2 separate regions of the Homo sapiens genome follow, and region 1 is linked to region 2. A link means that fine-mapping ties the variant in region 2 to the expression of a gene that starts in the linked region. Tissue or cell type: whole blood. Region 2 holds a variant in brackets; the other region holds the start of a gene. All regions are shown on one strand. Distances are from middle to middle.

Evidence for each region. PIP is the estimated chance that this variant, and not a neighbour inherited with it, causes the effect.
Region 1: ZNF862 starts here. The variant in region 2 is fine-mapped to the expression of ZNF862 in whole blood (TOPMed, PIP above 0.99).

What each region holds. Positions count from the first base shown.
Region 1 is chr7:149,837,113-149,839,736 of GRCh38, reverse strand. ZNF862 (zinc finger protein 862) reads right to left here and starts at 1,362. Exons shown (of 8, transcript NM_001099220.3): 1 at 1,102-1,362. The coding sequence starts at 1,125. RefSeq lists a silencer at 827-1,286.
Region 2 is chr7:149,861,731-149,864,230 of GRCh38, reverse strand. ZNF862 (zinc finger protein 862) reads right to left here. Exons shown (of 8, transcript NM_001099220.3): 7 at 1,737-2,500; 8 at 1-122. Among named protein-coding and RNA genes, the nearest start is that of ATP6V0E2-AS1, 11 kb to the left of the region's middle. The variant G/CTGTG (reference allele first, on the strand shown) is at 1,053.

The DNA.
Region 1 (2,624 bases), 25 kb after region 2:
GCATCACTGTAGCTTGTGGAGGGAGGGAGGATGGAAGAGATGCTCATGCGAGAAATCACCTCTTTTGAAATTCAGAGTCCTTCCTAGTCTTCCCAGGAAAAACTACAGCATCAAAAGAACCTCATTATCCTTTTCTCTCTTTTCGTGTGGGACAACCCTTTCAGGCGTGTCCAAGTTATTGAAGTGAAAACTGCAGGAGAGCTCCTTGAGAAAGGTGATCATTTCCTATTTATCCTCATACTTCCAGCATCTCGTTCAATGCAAATCACAGATCACAAATGTTTATTAAATGGACAGTTTTTTAAGGGACTCAATAAACAGTCGAAAACGTTTGTTGAGAGAATTCTCCTCTGTGCCAAATAAGAAACAATACTCAAGAACTGGCAGCAAACAACATCCAGAAAGATGTTAGTCCCAAGAGGCTGCCACTGTCTCCAAGCTAATGTGCCCACAACCACACTGGTCTTGGATGACACGGCCTGGAAGCGCTGGCAATCCCGTCAAATCCCTGAACTCCGCCCCCAAGCACTTTCTTTCCACCTTTTCTTCCAACTCAAAGCCTCTTGCCCAAAGCCAATTTATGACACAGGTTTCTAAGCAATGCCCAGATATTCCATGAAGTACATAACCTAGAAACAGAAGTGGCAAAAAGCATGCCAGATGCCCTCTCTTTTCAGCCCTTTCTTGGTAAGGAGGATCTAGGCAGGGTCAAGCCCTCAAGCGTCCCACCCTGCAGCTCCCACTGGCGTCCGATCCAGACTCCAAGCCTTAGCAGGGCCTCTTCAAAACGCCGAAGGTGGTGGGGAAAACAGGAAGCACCTTCGCATCGCTCCACTCGGGGGTCACCCAACCCAGCATCGACCCAGCGGACGCTCGGCAGCTCGGGGAGGATGCGCGGACACCGAACGGAAGCGTCCGCTCCTCTCCGCCACCCTCCCGGGGTCGGGCGCCGAAGTGCGGGAAGAGAGGGCGGGCCGGCGAGTCCTTCCCTGCAAGCCTGGCTCATCTGCGGGGCCTCCGCCCGAGCCGCCCCGCCTCGCCCGAGCCCGGCTCGGGGATCCTCGGGAGGGAGCGGGCGGCCCCCGGGCCTTCCAGTCCTACCTTCCCCGACTCTCTGGGCTCCATGGCCCCGCTTTCGGAGGCCCGTGCCGCCCCCTCCCCCCGCGGCCTGGCCTGAGGATGCAGCCGCCGCGACCGCCCCGGGGACCCAGGCTCCCGGAGGGGGAGGGCACCCAGGTAGGGAGGGAGCGCGGCCCAAGAACTTCGCTCTCTCACGTCGGGGGGCGGTAGCGCCGGTGGACCCAGGATAAGCGCGCTGAGCTGAGACTTGCGTCGCACCGAGCGAACAGCTTTACGGTCACTGCCCAGCCCCAGGCGGCGGGGCGTGACGGGAAGTGTAGTCCGCTCTAGGTGAGCGGCTCTCGAAGCTGCTATTGGCTCCCGGAACGCAGGTCCTGATTGGACGCCGGCGGCGCGCTTGCGACCCTCCCCGCCTCCCTCCGGCGACAGTTACTAGGCAACGGCGGCGTGGCGTCCTTTAGTCCTCTGCAGCAAGGGCAAAGCGCTCTGATTGGGCTACGCGAAGGCCAATGTCAGCCTTGAAGTTCTAGGTTTTCTTTTATTAAGGAGGGCAATACTTTTTGTTCTATTCACTCAAAAAGTATCATTGGTTGCCTACCATGGGTCAGGCCGTGTTCTAGGGTTTGGGAGAACACAGTTGAATGAGACAAAGGCCTTGCCTTCAAGGAACTCACGATCTATTAGGGAATCAGACCAGAAACAGATAATTACAAAACAGAGACAAGGGCTATGAAAGAGGTAAGCACAAAACATGAATTAAAGCCCGCGTTGTCACCTTAGAGTGAAGCGGTGGGGGATATGAGGTGCTTAGTCAAGGATTTCCTGCGGAAGTGATGCCTCAGCAGAATTAAAGCAAGAGGTAGGGTCTGCCAGGTAAAGGAGGTGCAATGGACTGACCGGTGTTCCCCTCCCAGGAGATGGGGCGTTTGGGAGGTTTAGATGAAGTCGTGAGGGTCAGGCCCTTATGGTGGGATTAGTGTCCTTATAAGAAGTTTTGTCCAAGTGCGGTGGCTCACACCTCTAATCCCAACTCTTTGGGAGGCTGAGACAGGAGGATCACTTGAGCCCAGTAGTTTGAGACCAGCCTGTGCAACACAGTGAGAGATCCCATCTCTATAAAAATAAAATAATTTTGTGAGGTGGAAGGATCACTTGAGCCTGGGTGGTCGAGGCTGCAGTAAGCCGGGATGGCGCTTCTGCACTCCAGCCTGGGTGACAGAGCAAGACCATGTCTCAAAAAAAAAAAAGACTTTTAGGGGGCCAGGGCAGGGATGTGCCTTCATGAAGGTGTTAGTGACCACATGCGTGCTGGGGGAACTAGCTAGGCCCTTTGCCCTTCTGCCCCTCTGCCTTCTGCCATGTGAGGACAGAGCAAAAAGGTGCCCTCCTGGAAGCAGAGACCAGGCTCTCACCAGACACAGACACTGCTGGTGCTTTGATCTTGGATTTCCCAGCCTCCAGAATCATAAGAAATAAGTATCCATAATTTATAAATTACCTAGTTCCAGGGATTTTGTTACAGAAGCACATAGAGATTAAGACAA
Region 2 (2,500 bases):
AGGCTCCATGATGCAGTCCTTCAGAACCTCCGCTGCTTCCCTGGAGGGCAGGATGGGTGGCTTCTGGGTCCTGGGCTCCTCCACATAGAGGGCTCCCATCTCCTCCTTCCTGAGCCTGGCGCCTGTGAGGGAGGAAGGAGAATACAATTAGACTGACTGACAGTGACCGCCTTCCACATCCAGCTTCGCCCAGGGGCTGTTTGGTGAGGAAAGCTTGGCAGAACAGACTGAAGTCAGGACCACGACTGCTCTTTGCAGCCCTCATCTGTTGCTACTCTGTTCATTCTTTTATCCTGAGATAGGGGATCTCAACTGGGGGCGATTTTGTCCCCCAGGGGCCATTTGCCAATGTCTGGAGATGATTTTTGTGGTCACAAATGGGGTGTGTGCTACTGGTATCCAGTGGTTATCTAATAGGTAGAGGCCATGGATGCTGCTCAAGTTCCCACAGTGAACAGGAAGGGCCCCCAACAGAGATTACCCAGCCCCAGCATCAACAATGCCAAGGCTGAGAGCCCTGCCTGGAAGGAGGCAGCGGTGCGTAGTTTGGCAGTGTTTGGACCAATCTGTGCTGGTCCTGTTGTCCCTGTGGAAAGAGTAACTCGCATCAGGGCACACCTGACATCATTTTTTTCTCCTTAGCACCCACAGGGCTGGACACAGAGCAACTCACCCAGCCCTCTCTCGGCTTTCCCTTTCTCTTATCAGTGAGGGGTCTCTTTTCTTATCCCCACCTGCCCTACTGTGGCTTCAGGGCCACCTTGCTTCCTACAGAGCCTCTGTCAGCCATGAGATCCAGTCCCATTTCTGGTGACCACAGACTCAGAGGTGAAAACTGGGAGCAGCAACAGCCGGAAGGAGGCCAGCTAGAGACGCGAGGAGAGAGAGCACTGGGAGCAGCAACAGCCGGAAGGAGGCCAGCTAGAGACGCGAGGAGAGAGAGCACTGCTCCATCCTTGTCAAGTGGTCGCGAGTGGTCTGGAGAACCCCAACAATGGGCATATTTTCTTTGGTTTTCAGTGACTACTTGAAGAGAAAAATTTCCTGTCTGT[G/CTGTG]GCTTTCAGTAACTTGCCCTCCCTTCTAATACAGCTTCCCCCTCAAGCAAGTTCTTGACCCCAGCCCTCCGGTCCAGAGAGGCTGTTTCTGTTCTCCCCTGCCCCGTGAGATTTCTGCCTGAAAGCCCCACCATCTCCTCCGCATCTCACCTCCTCCACAGCCACATGGACCTCTTCCCTCTTGAAAATTCCTGCACGGTCCAGAGTCTATACAGCCCCACTTAGAATGTGATGGCGCTGCCTGGGGCTGGTCAGCCCTCTCCTTACTCCCAGCAGTGGTCTTGACCTTTAACTAGTACCATTTGCACCACCTGCCAGGCATTGTCCTGAGTGTTTTCCACACACAACTCATTCGGCAGATGAGAAACCAAGGCATCAAAGGACAGACTTGCCCAAGGCCACACAGCCAGTTGGGGGCAGAGCCAGCACAGCACTGTCACCAGGGCAGACAGGCTCTAGAAATGCACGCTCTCTGCACTAAGCCCTGCTGCCTAGAGCACATGTGCGTCATCTCCCTGGCAGGGGTGCAAGCTCCTGGAGGGTGGATGTCACGCATCGAGTACCCACTGGCCTAGCAAATGGGTGGGTGCATGACAGAAGCTCCACAGGCACCTGCAGTCCTGTCTTATTGGCCTCTGGCTCAGCATGAGGCTGCCTTGGGGGAGCTCTGCCACGTGTACTTACTTGCAGGGGAGCGGGCTGGCACCTGGGCACAGGTGTAGACATGGCTGAAACGCCGGCCTGAGGAGGTCAGGTACCAGTGCTGGATGGCGGGCTGGGGGTCGTACTCCGTGACGGCCACGCCGTTCACAGCTGTCATCATGAGCATGTTGAGCACCTCGTTGGAGAGCTTGGTCCTCTCATCGGTCCTGATTCGGTTCATGGCCTTGAACCCCCGCTCACAGCAAGAGGTGGAGATGGGCACACAGACCACCACGGCCATGAGCTTGCTTAGCAGGGGGAAGCGGCAGTGCTGGGCCAGGGCGTTTTTGCAGAGCATGGAGAACGGGAGGTGCTGGGCAATGGTTTTCAGGCCCAGCCACTCCTCCAGCAGAGCTTCCTCACTGTATCCTGTTGGGAGGGAGCACTCGAAATACCTGGCCAGGTTGAGAATGTCATCATTCCCAAAACTGGCAAGTTCAATCCCACTTGGCCAGGCCATGGTGTCAAACACCTCCATGTTCTTCAGCTGTGGGGGTCGGTCTGCGTCAAACCTCTGCTGGAGGTACTCAATCCCCGTCAGGACTGTCCTCTCCCTATCCGCCTGGAACCGCTGTTCCGCTACCTCCAGTTTGTCCAAGCAGATGCCGTGGAGCCGCCCATCCTTGAAGCTGGCGTTGAATTCTTCCTCTTTGGGCCCTGCCTGGTGACGGAGGCTCTCCAGTGCCACGTAGGCGCGGCCCAGCGTGGCGTTCACCTCTGTAATCAGCACGATCTCCTTCTGGCAC